2 separate regions of the Homo sapiens genome follow, and region 2 is linked to region 1. Evidence: fine-mapped expression QTL. Tissue or cell type: whole blood. Region 1 holds a variant in brackets; the other region holds the start of a gene. All regions are shown on one strand. Distances are from middle to middle.

Evidence for each region. PIP is the estimated chance that this variant, and not a neighbour inherited with it, causes the effect.
Region 2: JAK2 starts here. The variant in region 1 is fine-mapped to the expression of JAK2 in whole blood (TOPMed, PIP above 0.99).

What each region holds. Positions count from the first base shown.
Region 1 is chr9:5,074,311-5,082,310 of GRCh38, forward strand. JAK2 (Janus kinase 2) reads left to right here. Exons shown (of 25, transcript NM_004972.4): 15 at 3,143-3,270; 16 at 3,996-4,134; 17 at 5,919-6,070; 18 at 6,223-6,373; 19 at 7,415-7,551. It also overlaps a transcript of INSL6 not described here. Among named protein-coding and RNA genes, the nearest start is that of JAK2, 93 kb to the left of the region's middle. The variant G/T (reference allele first, on the strand shown) is at 4,846.
Region 2 is chr9:4,980,510-4,988,652 of GRCh38, forward strand. It overlaps JAK2 (Janus kinase 2), which reads left to right and starts at 4,763. Exons shown (of 25, transcript NM_004972.4): 1 at 4,763-5,121; 2 at 5,431-5,513. RefSeq lists silencers at 2,716-2,845, 4,296-4,345, 4,386-4,465, 4,856-5,185 and enhancers at 3,814-4,647, 4,576-4,715, 5,516-5,565.

The DNA.
Region 1 (8,000 bases):
CTTTATTGTGCTTCTTAGATATTGTATTTTTTACATATTGAAGGTTTACGGCAACCCAGTGTCTAGCAACTCTGTCAGCAACATTTTCCCAACAGCATGTGCTCATTTCATGTCTCTGTGTCATATTTTGGTAATTCTAGCAACATTTCAAACTTTAAAAAAATCATATGGTGATCTGTGATCAGTAATCTTTAATGCTAGTATTGTAATTATTCTGGGGTGTCCCAAACAGAGAGAATATAAGAAGGCAAACTTCATAGATGAATGCAGTGTGTGCTCTGACTGCTCCATCAATGAGCCATTCCTCTGTCTCTCTCCCTCTCCTGGGGCCTCCCTATTCCCTGAGACAACAATATTAAAATTAGGCCATTTAATAATCACACAATGGTCTTTAAATGTTCAAGTGAAAGGAAGATTCACCCGTCTCTCACTTTAAATGGAAAGCTAGAAATGAAGCAGCAAACGCTGATGTGGAAGCTGCAGCAGTTATCCAGAAGATCTAGCAAAGACCATTGATGAAGATGGCTTAGAGAGGAAGGCATGCTGAAAGCCAAGACAAGCTGAAAGCTAGGCCTCTTGCACTAAAAAGGCAAGTTATGAATCCAAAGGAAAAGTCCTTGAAGGAAACTGAAAGTGCTACTCCTGTGAGCACATAAATTACAAGAAAGTGAAACAGTCTTATTGATGATACAGAGAAAGTTCTAGATAGAAGATCAAACCAGTCACAACATTCCCTTGAGCCAAAGCCCAATCTAGAGCAAGATCTTAATGCTCTTAAATTCTATGAAGGCTGAGAGAGGTGAGGAAGCTGCAGAAGAAAAGTTGGAAGCTAGCAGAGGTTGGTTCATGAGGTTTAAGAAAAGAAGCCATGTGCACAGCATAAGTGCAAGGTGAAGCAGCAAATGCTGATGTGGAAGCTACAGCAAGTTATCCAGAAGATCTAGCAAGGACCATTGATGAAGATGGTGACACTAACAAACAGATTTTCAAATGTAAACAAAACAGCCTTCTGTTGGAAGAATATGCCATCTAGGACTTCCACAGCTAGAGAGGAGAAGTCAGTGCTTGCCTTCAAAGCTTCGAAGGACAGGCTGACCCTCTTGCTAAGGGCCAATGCCATTGGTGATTTGAAATTCAAACCAGCGCTCATTTACCATTCCAAAAATCCCAGGGCTCTGCGAATTATGCTAAGTCTACTCTGCCTGTGCTCTATACATGGAACAAGAAAGCCTAGATGACAGCACATCTGTTTATAGCATGGTTTATTGACTATTTTAAGCCCATTGTTGAGACCTGCTCAGAAAAAAAGATTGCTTTCAAAGTATTACTGATCATTGACAATGCACCTGGTCACCCAAGAGCTCTGATGGAGATGTACAAGGATATTCATGTTATTTTCAGGCCTGGTGACACAACATCCATTCTGTAGCCCATGGATCAAGGAGTTATTTCAACTTTCAAGTCTTATTATCTAAGAAATACATTTTGTAAGGCTAAGCTGCCATAGATAGTGATTCCTCTGGTGGATCTGGGTAAAGTAAGTAGAAAAACTTATGGAAAGGATTCACCATTCTAGATGCCAGGAATAGCATTCATGGTTCATGGAAGGAGATCAAAATGGCAGCATTAATAGGAATTTGGAAAAAGTTCATTCTAACCCTCCTGGATGACTTTGAGGGATATGGTACTTTAATGAAGGAAGTCACTGCAGAGATGGTGGAAACAGAGAACTAAGAAGTGGAGCTTGAAGATGTGACTCAATTGCTACAATCTCACGATAAGCCCTGAAAGAAGGAGGAGTTGCTTCTTATGGATAAGCAGAGAAAGTGGTTTCTTAAGATGGAATCTACTCCTAGTGATGATGCTGTGAACATTGTGAAATGACAACAAAGGGTTTGGAATTTTACATAAACTTGATTGATCAAGCAGTTGCAGGGTTTGAGAGGACTGACCCTGTAAAGTTCTACTGTGGGTAGAAGGCTATCAAACAGCATTGCATGCTACAGAGAAATCTTTCATGAAAGGAAGAGTCTGCAGTGAATTTCATTGTTGTCTTATTTTAAGAAACTGCCACAGCTACCTGAACTTTAAGCAGCCACCACCATGATCAGTCAGCAGCGATTAACATCAAGCAAAAAGATTACAACTTTCTGAAGGCTCAGATTATCATTAGCACCTTTTTTGGCAATAAAGTATTTTTAAAAAGATATATTCTTTGTTTTTTTTAAGATATAACGCTGTTGCACACTAAATAGACTCCATTATAGTGTATATACAAGTTTTATATGCATTGGGATACCAAGAAATTCATGACTTGCTTTATTATGGTAGTCTAAAACCAAACTGGTAATATCTTCGAGGTATGCCTTTATTTTAGTGCCTCACAAAGTTTACATTCAAGAAAATTGTTTATATAATTCCCTATTTTCCACTAGTAATGCAGATTAAATACACATCTACACTTGTATGACATTTTTTCATATCTTTGAAAATTGATAATCTTCTCAAAAGCAGTGGTTTGGAACCTGTTATATGGAGGTATCTGAGAGGCTCCTGTGGACCATGAAGGAATCCAGGATTGTTTTTGGAAGCCAACACTTGTTTTTCTGGCAAAATATGTTTTATATATTTTTTTAAAAAAGTTTTAAAGATAAAGCAGCGCAAAACATTTCTGTATTTTTTGCAGAATTAAAAGATTAAATGGAGCTAGAACTCAAATTCTCCTTTATGTCTATAGTACTATAGACAATTGTTAGTAATTTTTGTGTGTAGAAGAACTTCAGGAAGGTTTGAATGTCTAAAAAGTTATGTGGAAGAGAAATTGAGAAATTTTCATTTATTTTTAAAAACCAGCCATAATTCAGTACTAATATATAAAGGTGTGCTGGTATATTATATATTATACATTTATGTTATATATAATAATATATAATTGTTTAGACTCCTACTCTTGCTGTTGTAAGTAAACTAAAAACCAAAAATATAATGCTGTGTATCCATTAAGTTTTCTTTAAAGTTGTGAGTTTTGCCAATTTAATTTCTTTACCTATAATGGTCACATGTAAGTATAAAGATTTAAATTACATATATTTAATTATATTTATACTTAAGCCTTATTATTATTACTTATATTTTAATGCAGATATTCTGGTTCAGGAGTTTGTAAAATTTGGATCACTAGATACATATCTGAAAAAGAATAAAAATTGTATAAATATATTATGGAAACTTGAAGTTGCTAAACAGTTGGCATGGGCCATGCATTTTCTAGTAAGTAGTACAACCTTTTTATCAAAAGATACTATTTTATTTTATAAAACAATATACAAATTATCTTTACCTGGAAACAAAAAATAAATCTGTAATTGGATGCCAATTCATGTAAAATAGTCTGTGTTAGGTGATAAAAAGAGATTACTTTAGGCATATGTTTATGTATGTAAAATCACTTTTGAAAAAAAAGTTTTGTCATCCCATCAATATCTTAGAACTACTAATAGACAATCTGTATGTTGTGTCTTTTGGATTTAGAAAATTCAACCAAAAATTATGCAGAAGTATGTGCTTCTGTATTTTTGGGCCATTGTACATTATGGTCCATGAGAAAGCGGTGTTGACAGAGAAGAATACCAGGGGGACTGCCAGTCATCAGACCCCTCAGGGTGCACCTATGTCCTGCTGCAGAACTGAAGTAGTATTTCTTAATGTCAGCTCCCATCCAGAAACACAAACCATGTCAGCCTTAGAACTCATGTGAAATGGCATTGGTAGTTTTAATTTATTCATTTCATCACAAGCATAGATTATTGTGTTATTTAAAATGTAAAACAGGAAGCATAGGAGTCATAAATTTCCTTTTTTCTCAATGCATGCCTCCAAATTATTATACTATCATGTATTTTTCTTCTTTAAATCTGTTTTGGGGGCTTGAACATACTAAATGCTCCAGTACTTGTGGACTGATATTTGAATATATGTGCGTTTAACTCTAATAGGAAGAAAACACCCTTATTCATGGGAATGTATGTGCCAAAAATATTCTGCTTATCAGAGAAGAAGACAGGAAGACAGGAAATCCTCCTTTCATCAAACTTAGTGATCCTGGCATTAGTATTACAGTTTTGCCAAAGGACAGTAAGTTCTAGAAGGATTATATATAATGTTACTAAGCTTTACTTGGGCAGTGGTGTAAAGGGCATGTTGTTAATTTTCCTTGAATTCCATTTAATTTGTATGTTCCTGATTAATAATAAAATTATCACTTTTAGCAATTTAAATTGTTAGTTAAATCTTAGTCTCTATTTTTCTTTCTTATAAGCATATAACCATGGACTGTGAGGTGATTTTTTAAAAACAGTTTTAATCTCTAATTATGTATGAAGGATAGGATTTTATCCATTTTTAGTATGAAGTTTTGTAATATTCCTTGAGCCACAAGTAAATTTTCTAAATATTCTTTTCTTCTCGTCACTAAATAAAAATTTAGCCTGAGATTTTAGGATTTTTTTCTATCCTCTGTGAAGAAATTAGTTTAATTATCCAGCTAATTCTGACTTTTTAAAACCTTAAAAAAACTTTGATTTGTGTTTGTTCATCTTTACTACTTAACACAGTGGGTTAAAAATACAAATTTCAGTCAGATAGTTGAGAGGGGTTTTTTGGGTCTAGATAATTATAACTGAATTTTGTTATCTTAGATAATTTCTCTAATTGGATGTTCTAAATTTAGATTCTAAATTGATCAATTTTTGTGCACTGATGTGTCCTATTTAAGCTAATAGTACTTAAACTTAATGACTTATCTGACAGTGAAGACAGTGATAACTGGGCAGTAGTACAGGAGTA[G/T]GGAGTATGGCAGAAAATTCTTACAGGGTCTTACATCTGGTATCCTGGAAAATTTTATCCTTTGGAATCGGAAGTGAAGATGGAAAAAAATGTATTCATATGGTGAAGGTATTTGTCAATCAATCTATTTGTCTGTCTGTCTATGTCAGAATACCAGAAAGTAGGGTTATATTGCTTCTTCCTTTCTTGAATACAGTCCTTCTGGTGGAATCAAAGACCACAGAAACTTTACTTGAGAAATTCCGTGATTTGAGCAGAGCCCACCTATATCAATTCCATATATCTAGAATATTTTGGTGCAATTTAGCCTTCCATCTGCCATAAATGCTTGTTGGTCCTTGGGTTTTTTTTTTTATCTGCAAGTGGGAATTGCCATGGCTATTAAATCATTAGAACATCTCTGAATGATGTAACATTACCTTTACTACTTACGCATTATGAAGAAATACCAAAAAGTATCATGGGGCAATTTTAGGATAAACTATATAAAAAAAAAAGATTTGGCCAGGTGCAGTGGCTCATGCCTGTAATTCCAATGCTTTGGGAGGCTGATTGCTTCCTAAAGCGCTTGGGTGGATCACTTAAGCCCAAGAGGTCAAAGCATAGTGAGCTGCAATCGTGCCATTGCACTCTAGCCTGAGTGACACAGTGACACCCTGTCTCAAAAAAAAAATTTTTTTTTTTTGAAGGTAAAACTAATGGAAAGAGGTTGAGAAAATGGTATGCCAGTTGAGACACTATGGTTTAATGGAAAGATTAGTTGATTCAGAACTCACTGTACAGGATTCTAATTCTGTCTCTGCTGCTAACAAATTGTGTGGCTTTGGGCAGATTACTCAATCATATGTCTCCATGTTGTCATTGTTAAAGATGAAATATTGAATTAGATGATCTTGAAGGTCCCTTCTGGTTCTTAAGCTTATGCAGTCATGTGCATGTGCACATCCAACCCCTCCAAAATAAAGAAAATAGGCCTGATTATTCAAATGATTTGAACTTTAAAGCTATTTACATATAAAAGATTGGTTTACTTGTGAATTATTTAACCCTACTCTGTTCGTATCATTTAAAAGTTCTTCAGGAGAGAATACCATGGGTACCACCTGAATGCATTGAAAATCCTAAAAATTTAAATTTGGCAACAGACAAATGGAGTTTTGGTACCACTTTGTGGGAAATCTGCAGTGGAGGAGATAAACCTCTAAGTGCTCTGGATTCTCAAAGAGTAAGTTTATATAGACTAAGTTAGAATTACTCTATCTCTGAACTTTCATATTTCTTTCACATGATTTGTATTTTTTAGCCCATCTAATTTTAAAAAGAAGGTTGGTGTGGCATTACACAATTTATTCTCAGTTTGTGGTTCTTTAATTATAGAAGCTACAATTTTATGAAGATAGGCATCAGCTTCCTGCACCAAAGTGGGCAGAATTAGCAAACCTTATAAATAATTGTATGGATTATGAACCAGATTTCAGGCCTTCTTTCAGAGCCATCATACGAGATCTTAACAGTTTGTTTACTCCAGGTATGTATTTGAATGATCTTATTGATTTTCCAGCTTTCTATCTTTATTGTATTTAATGAATCATTACTAATTTTTAATTCCTTTAAAACATTTTCTTGATGTCATTTGGGCCCTCTTAATTTCTTATGTTCATATGGCTTTTCATGCTTTATACATATTCTAATCTCCTTGACTGAGAATTATTTTCATTTTTATAAAAAGACCTTTTCTTTTTTTTTTTTTTTTTTTTTGAGATGGAGTCTTACTCTGTCGCCCAGGCTGGAGTGCAGTGGCGCGATCTCGGCTCACTGCAAGCTCCACCTCCAAGGTTCACGCCATTCTCCTGCCTCAGCCTCCTGAGTAGCTGGGACTACAGGCGCCCGCCACCACACCCGGCTAATTTTTTGTATTTTTAGTAGAGACGGGGTTTCACCGTGTTAGCCAGGATGGTCTCGATCTCCTGATCTTGTGATCCGCCCGCCTCGGCCTCCCAAAGTGCTGGGATTACAGGCTTGAGCCACCGCTCCCAGCCAAAAAGACCTTTTCTTTCAGTAACCTAATTTTAGTTTTCCATTTAGTGAGTTGTAAATTATAGTATTTTTTTTTTGCTTAAATTGACTTTTAAAAAACAATTCTCTTTAACATTTCTCATATTTTATAATTGATTGATTCTCTAAACATGAGCTGTATTTGTTTTGCTTTGTTCTCTCCTTTTTCAAAATACTGAGCTGAAATGCATGTGTTTGACCTATAGGTGCTTTCTACCCCAGTACTACTCACCTTTCTCACAATAAGTATCAGTATATTACCTTACTTTATGAATACTAAAACTTCTTATTTTGGAAAACAAAATTTTATCCTTTGCAAAGTCTCTCTTGAAGGCCTGTCAGATTATGGGTAATGATTAAAGGCTCCCATTAATATAATTGAAACTATTTGAGTTTCCCTGTATCATTTAGTATTTTTAACTCACGATTATTTTGGTCAACTTGAATGTATATCAGTTTAGTCCAGAGAATGTTATTTGCTAATTTAAGGTGATAATATTCTTTATTTCTCCAGATTATGAACTATTAACAGAAAATGACATGTTACCAAATATGAGGATAGGTGCCCTGGGGTTTTCTGGTGCCTTTGAAGACCGGGATCCTACACAGTTTGAAGAGAGACATTTGAAATTTCTACAGCAACTTGGCAAGGTAAATTGTCAGAATTTTTTCAAATAGAGTATAATCATTTCATTTAGGAAAAACTTAAGAGCGTTTCTAAAGTTCACTTTCTACAACATTTTAAGGAGTGCTTGTAGAAAAAAAAGGTTTGGTTGTCAGATGTTGGAGAAATGCTGTGTTAAATAAACAGCTATCTTTACTGAATGAAGGGGGCCAGCCCCTCCACACCTGTGGGTAATTCTCGTCAGGTGGGACCAGAGACTGAGAAAAGAAAGAAGACACAGAGACAAAAGTATAGAGAAAGAAAAGTGGGCCCAGGGGACCAGTGCTCAGCATATGGAGGACCCGCACCAACACTGGTCTCTGAGTTTCCTCAGTATTTATTACTGTTTTCACTATCTCAGCAAGAGGAATGCGGCAGGAGAGCAGGGTGATAGTGGGGAGAAGGTCAGCAAGAAAACATGTGAGGAAAGGAATCT
Region 2 (8,143 bases), 94 kb before region 1:
AAAGCTATGGGGACACATACTGCGCACATTCTCTCTCTCTTCTCTTCTGTGGCATTCTTCTCTCCTATAGCAAATCAGCTTTCTGTGCAAGAATGAAGATGGTAACCTCATAGTGGCAGCCTTAACTTTAGAGCATGGGTAACCTCATTTCAAGTGAACAGAAAAGTCTGATTTGCTGTTTTTGAATCCCAACTCCAAATTCCCCAGGAGTGAGACTCTGATGGCTCAGCTTGGTCCAATCAAGGGGTTGTGGGAAGCAGGGTGTCACAAACTAGAACGTAGGTGCCAGAGGCTGGCTACTCTGGGTGAAGAGGACAGTTCTCAGCAAAGAGGACAGAATCCTTAGTCTAAATTAGGACTCAGGAATTAAGTCTCTGAGTCTCTGTAAACTAACAATTATGCTAGGGATTTATTTTTATTTTTTATTTTATTTTATTTTATTTTTTGAGATGGGAGTCTTGCTCTGTTGCCCAGGCTGGAGTGCAGTAGCATGATCTCGGCTCACTGCAACCTCCACCTCCCAGGTTCAAGTGAATCTCCTGCCGCAGCCTCCTGAGTAGCTGGGACTATAGGCACATGCCACCATGCCTGGCTAATTTTTTGTATTTTTAGTAGAGACAGGGTTTCACCATGTTAGCCAGGAGATCTTGATCTCCTGACCTTGTGATCCACCCACGCTGGACTCCCAAAGTGCTGGGATTACAGGTGTGAGCCACTGCGCCTGGCCGAAATTTTGTTTTTAAGAGTGAATGCTGGCATGAATCCTTTCACACACACAAAAAATGTTTTTCGTGAATAGGCAACTATATGTCTAACAGTTTTAAGTTAAATTTTTTAAAAGTAGCACATAGTTATAATGGTCATTTTACATATTTTGCCAAATAATTATCCTCACTTGAAAGAGGTTATTAATTCTTGGCTTACAAAGGGAAAACTGTTTTGGTTTTCAAGCACCAAAGTTTAATACATCCAGTTATCTCAAGGGAATGAGGGATCTGTTCACTGGCAATATCTTTTTTGTTTTCCTTTTCTTTTTGTGATTGAAAGTAAGGATAAGGGAACTGATGTAGAGACAAGGACATGCTGAAGTACCGAGGAGGTATTGGAAAATTTCTTTGCCATAGCCAACCAAATTTTGGAATAAATGGTACTAAAATATCTGGATGATTTGTAGTAAAAAAAACATTGCTTGCTTGTCTGTCTACTTGATTAATACCCCTTGCCTTTGTCTTTTGGCTTATAATCCTACATTTGGAATAAATAAGCCTCTTTCCATATTTTATTCCTTTCTGCCTTCAGGAAAGTACATCTTCCCTGTTTTGGAAAGAAACAAACTAACTCCTGGACTTCTCCCCAGCCCTTCGTTTGAGCCTGTTTCCCTTTCCAAGGACTTTCCTGCATCTTTTTTTGTGCTCACATTTATGTCCCTCCTTAAGAATGATGTTTTCAGTCTCATCATTTAATGATATAGTTCTGTTTTTTAAAATTCAAATGGAGATCTTCACATTTATCTCTATTACAACTCAGCCCTTATCCTACCAGCCCACACAGTCCTGTGTAGTGCAATAAACTGTGACAAATACTTCAATCTTCCTAATAAAATTCAACAAATTTCTTATACCTCCCAGCTTGGTTATATCTGTAAATTGGTCCTGCCACAGATATAATAGACATTTGATAACTGTGCTAAGGGTTTTAAAATACTTTTTCACCTAATCTTCAAAATCTCTCTACAGGGGAGATTATTATCCTCATTATACTGATGAGGAAACAGAGGCTTAGAAAATCTAAATAAACTTTCCTGGCAAAAGCTGTGATTGAAAGAAACCTGGGTGGTCTGGACTCTTAAAGCGTAAGTTCTTAAACCCTTGGCCATGGATTTTCAACCGTGGCTTTATGTCAAACCACCTAAAAATGTTAAAAAGTTATAGAAGCCAATGCGCCATCTCACACTTACTGAGGCAGTCTTGTTGGGGTGGGGGGAAGGTTTGGGCATAGCAGTCAAGAATCACTGCTGCCATGCTGGCCAACACTGGAAGGACAAAACCTCAAGACACTACACACAGCCCCACAGTCAACAACTAGCTGTTAAGTTTTCCCATTAGATCTTGCCACAAAGTTTTGAATCTAAATGTGTTACCTTACAGCTCATATTTCTTGTTTCTTCATATTGTATGAATGTTTTGAAAGACTTGGTCAAATTCCTTGGAATTCTTTTCATCATTATCAAAGAATAAGGGAAATTTCCTGAAATGTTTGCCTTGAGTAGCAAATTTCTAGTGATGCCACTACCAGGAATCACATAAAGAGCTCAAAAGTTCTGTTAATACAGAGTGAAAAAAGCTCAACATTCCAGGTTAGCATTGACTTAAAATCATGTCTTAGTGATGAGGGAGGCTTTCACTTTCTGAATGACAGGAGGCAAGTTGCTTCATCTTTCTATGTGGGGAGACAGAAGATTTCTCAATTCTATAGGCTTATGAATAATATACCCCTTGTCCACCTTGTCTTCCATACCCACATCTCTAATATTAAGAAAATAACCTGCTCCCCCACAAAAATATCCTCAATATTCACCACTTCCAAATGGCTTCTCCCTGCAATTCACCAATTTCAAATGGCTTCTCCCTGCAAACAGGCTGTGGACAGTAAGAGATACCATGCCTAGTTACATAAGTATATCACTGCAAAATATAGAAACATCACTTATAATGAAAGTAATACTGTTTCAGAGTTCTAAAACAAGCATTTTCTTCCCCTCACAAAATATCACATTTCCATTTCCACAGTTGTGATGCTTTTCATTTACCCATGACGTTAAGCTCATCTTTAGCTCTTCTTCATTATGTGGGTCTGTGTTCTAGCTTTTACCTCAGTAGCAGTTTTTGTTTGCAGGAAAAAAGGAACTCTTTTGGTAGTCACTGTTTGTAATTGCGGCCTTGATATTCTAAGCCATTGAGTCACAATTAATAATTAGAAATTCTTACTAACTTTGCCCATATATTACCTATGAAGCAGTAGCCGTAGGAATGCAATTTTCCTGTAAATCCCTCCCTCTTATACAGCTCTAGTTCATTATTTAAAAGATTCAGGGTGAATTCAAGTAATTTCCTATGCTGCTATCATTTGCTTAAAGACCTTTTGCAATGGGTCTTATGTAAGAAGAAATGCAGGAGTTGCTTTGGTGAGGTTTATTTAAAGAAACCATTAAGTGCAAGACAGACCTGAAGAGCAGCATCAGTTGTGTATGGGGAAACAGGAGCTATGAATGCGTCACTTCATTTAGGTTGACAGAAAGAGGGCTAATACTTGAAAAAAATCCCTACACGATCTGGTGCCAGGCTACTTCTTTGGCCTCACCTCTTACCACTGCCCCCTCCTTCCGTGTCCTCCAGCCACAGTGACCTCTTTCCTGATCCTTGAACTTGCCAAACACTTTCCCTTCTCAAGGTCTTTGCCTTCAGGAGTCCCTCTGCCTGAAATTCTTTTCCCAGATAGTCATGGGACTGGTTCATTCTCATCCTTCAGATCTCTGCTCAAATGTCACTTATTCTAGGAAATCGTTCCTGGCCACCGTAAAATAGCACACCCCCTCCTCACTTTCTACTCCTTTTCTTTGTTATTATGTATATGGCAGCAGAAAACTATGCATTTTCTTAGTGGCAATTACACACCCCGCACATTATGCATTTAAAGCGTTGTTTGTTGTTTTGTCGCTTCCATCAGAATACAATCCAGTAGGGCAAGGAGTGTGTGGGGTCGTGTTCACCTGGTATCTCTGGGGACCTACAGCCCGGCACCTAGTAGACACTCAGTAAATATTTGAATGAATGAATGAGGCCCTTTGGCAGCCGGGAAGCCCGTCACAGCCGTTGTCTCCACCCTCTCCCGGGCTACACCAGGCCACGCCGGTAAAGTTGTTTCTCCTCTAGGAGAAACATTCGCTAGGCCTTGTTGCCAACCCGCAGGCGGCTGGGCGCTTCATCCCACCCTCACCCCTTTCCAGCCAAGGTGGCTGATGGGAGTCAGGCTCTCGAGGGCGCATTGCCACGAAACAGCGTGTGTGAGCGCGTTGTCCCCGGCCCCCGGCGCCACTTCCCCTCGGCCTAGCAGCCTGGACTGGGGAAGGACGGGTCTGCTGTACCCGGGAGGTGGAAGGAAAAGCCGAAAGCGGAGAAGTGTGCGGGAGGGGAGTCTCCGCGCGGAGGCAGCCCGGCCTCCTCCAGTGCAGGCTGCGCGCTGGGGAGCCAGCCAGGGTGAGTCACTCCCGGCCGCTTCCCTGGAGGGCGGCGGCCACACACACACCCGCCCATCTAGTGAGGGCCGGGCCCAGCGCTGGCGCCTAGCTCCAGCCGGGCACCAGCGTTTCGCGAGGCGCCGCCGCCTTAACTTCCTTGCGCGCTCACGCCCAGGGGCCGTCCCAGGAATCTCCACGCGCGCTCGCCGGCTTCCCGAGAGGCAGCTGCCCTGCGTGGCCCGCGCCTGCCGGTCCCGCGACCAGCACCGAGCGGCGCACGCGCACTGCAGGACGCGCGTCCGGCTCTCCCCCAGCCTCTATCCGGCCCGGTCTCCTGCCATTCGGGGAGACTGCAGGCCAACCGGGAGGCTGAGTTCGAAGCTAGCAGGGCGGCGAAGCCAGTGTCGCCCGCGGCGTTGAGAAGACGGTGTGGCCCCGGAGAGGGTGGAGACAACTGTGACGGGCTTCCCGGCTGCCCGAAGTGGGAGTGGTGTGGGGCTGCAGGAAGGAGAGAGGAAGAGGAGCAGAAGGGGGCAGCAGCGGACGCCGCTAACGGCCTCCCTCGGCGCTGACAGGCTGGGCCGGCGCCCGGCTCGCTTGGGTGTTCGCGTCGCCACTTCGGCTTCTCGGCCGGTCGGGCCCCTCGGCCCGGGCTTGCGGCGCGCGTCGGGGCTGAGGGCTGCTGCGGCGCAGGGAGAGGCCTGGTCCTCGCTGCCGAGGGATGTGAGTGGGAGCTGAGCCCACACTGGAGGGCCCCCGAGGGCCCAGCCTGGAGGTCGTTCAGAGCCGTGCCCGTCCCGGGGCTTCGCAGACCTTGACCCGCCGGGTAGGAGCCGCCCCTGCGGGCTCGAGGGCGCGCTCTGGTCGCCCGATCTGTGTAGCCGGTGGGTGTTATCTCTGCCTGGCTTCTGGGTGGGGGGCAGCAGCTGTCTCTCCACCCCCTTCCTACCTTTTGGTCCCGCCTGCCCCCTGCTAGTGGCAGCAAACTTCTGAGCCAGAAAAATCTTCCTCTTTAAGACGACACCTAGAACGAGTCTTGCTGGTGATATTTGCTTCCATTTGTGTCTTATAATTCCCTCGCTCCCGCCTCCTTATTCCTTTTTAAAATTTTCTAGACACTTAAACAGCCTAGAAAAAGCATTTGTTTCCCCTGGATTTATGTGGTAGTAGTTAACTGCTGCTTCTGTTTTTAGGTTTCAGAAGCAGGCAACAGGAACAAGATGTGAACTGTTTCTCTTCTGCAGAAAAAGAGGCTCTTCCTCCTCCTCCCGCGACGGTGGGTGTGCTGTCCTTTATCGCTGCAGTAAAGGCGAAGGTGTCTGGAGCTGGGAGTGCGTGCGTAGGGAAGGTTGGAAGCGTGTGAAGAGAGGCAGGGCTCATTGTTGCTTACTCTTCTGAAAATGTCAGTGCTAAACTTTTAATGTTGATCTGGGAGAGTAATTTTGGGGTGTTTTGTTGTTCGTCTTGGATCCTTTAAGAAACATTTTTTTGTTGGCTTTACACATAACGTGACTTTGCAGAGAAACGAAAAACGTTGTCCATTACCCTTTCTTCTTAAGCAGCCAGAGATTCTTAATCCTTTAAAGAGGAGTATTTCCAAGCAATAAGAGATAGCTTTTGGGAGAACACGTTAGCTATTCTTGCTGGGGTTTCTGCTACCACATTGAATGTTTCCTCATGGTTTTATCTGCCTAAGCTTGCTGTGTCGGTTGAATTTACCCAGTTTGTTTTCCAGTAATTACTAATCTGTTAGGAGAAACTCCATTTCTCTGAATGAAAGGGTAGGAGCGGCTGAGTATGGAGAAGGAAACTGGAAGTGGGAATAAGGGAAATGATTGCTTTTGGTTTCATAATAAGTTTGTACAGTGAGTTGTTGGGCTACTGCAAATAAAGATTTTGTATCCCTTCTCCAGAATGCTTGGGACCAAAAGTGTTTTGGATTTTTTTTAAAAATTTTGGAATGTTTGCATATACAAAATCAGACATCTTGAGGATGGGACCCAAGTGTAAATACGAAATTCGTTTGTTTCATATAGACCTTATTCACACAGCCACTAAGTCATTTGCAATATTTTTAATACGTCTGTGCATGAAACAAAGTTTGTATTAAGTACCTATGCGGGGAATTTTCCCCTTGTAGCATCATGTTGGTGCTCAAAATGTTTCAGATTTTGCAGCTTTTCAGATAAGGGATGATCAGCTTGTATTTTGATATAACACCCAGAACATTTGAAGATGAATAATCAATTTTTGGCCTCCCTTCCCCCATCCGCCTCACCTTATACCACTTTAAGTGTGAGAATTATTTGCTTGTACATGCATTTGTCTGTTGGTGTGTAACGTATGTACAGACTGGATGTATCCAGCACTTGCCTTAATAGTACATGTATTTACCTGAATAGGAAAGCTGCAGTACTTGCTGGCCAGAAGAGCACACCATGCTTGTTTTTGCTCTAACTGAATATCCTGTATTTGCAATTTATAGCAGTTTTAGGGACTCATTAGGGAATTTTGTGTGTGTGTGCCTTTGGTGATTTGAGACAGGTGTCTCAGATATGGGAAGGGAATATGACATTGTTTCTCTTTCACCTGGCTATTACTGAAAGGTGGGATGCTTTTGAGGCAGAATAGGAAAGTGCATTGGCTTTGGAGTGAGATCTGGATTTGAATCCTGGTGTTCTTGCCACTTAAGAGTTGCATTATTTACGGCTGGTCATGGTGGCTCACGCCTGTAATCCCAGCACTTTGGGAGGCTGAGGAAGGAGGATCACTTGAGGTGAGGAGCTTGAGACCAGCCTGGCCAACATGGTGAAACCCCATCTCTACTAAAAATACAAAAATTAGCCGGGCGTGGTGGTGCACACCTGTAATCCCAGCTACTCGGGAGGGTGAGGCAGGAGAATTGCTTGAACCTGGGAAGTGGTGGTTGCAGTGAGCCGAGATCTCACCACTGCACTCCAGGCTGGGCAACACAGCAAGACTCTGTCTAAAAAAAAAAAAAAAAAGAAAGAAAAAAAGAGTTATATTATTTACGACTCTTTTAGCTTCACTTTCTTATAAGATTGTTGTGAGAAGTGAGTAAGACACATGCAAAGTGGTAAACTGCCTGGCTGTCATAAAAGTCTTGGCTACTATCACGGCTGGGAGGCAAAGGAGATTCAGAGAAGGGCAGAATGACTGCATAAGGTGATCTGCCTGTAACTCGTGTTTCCTCCTTTCTAGTATAAAGAGATAAAGGACTTCAAGGTCTTAAACTGGTGAGGGAGTATTACAGCCTTTGTATGGAAAGGTTTGACTTTGTGTCTCTGCTTAAACCCCCATTGTGTTGCCCCTACCAATTATTGTGCTGCCCCCTTGTGGTTAACTGTGCTAAGACCTTTCTTTTGCTCTTCTCCCATTACATTTCCCACCCTTCCCCACTCCCTTTTAGACCCCTCCTCTTAGCTCCCAGTTTCCCAAACTGTGTGCCAAGGTGCCCAGAGCACCTCAGGCTTGAACTTGTGTTTTGAGTTGGTTCATGGTTTCAATATTAGATACCTACACCCGTTTCTACAATGTCATGTCTTTGTAAAGATGTATTTTCAGAGGTTGCTCCGATAAAAAGCAACTACTACATGAAAATGAATGTAGAACAGGAAATGACAGTGTGGTATTGTCCAATTTGATTCTAAGGTTTGATAAGTTCTACAGTGCTCTACACTAAGTTGTAAGGACATAACTACTAAGTAAGTTGTTCAAACCTATTTCTTTTGGCCTGGGGGTGTCGTGAAAAATTTGCTAAGACTCAGAGCTCCCTGAATGGGTTTGGAAACCTCTGCCTTAGCTTTTAGTTTGCTTTTCTGATAAAATTATTGATATAAAGCTAGTACCAGCTGATCATGGCTTAATATATTTCCTCTCCTATGT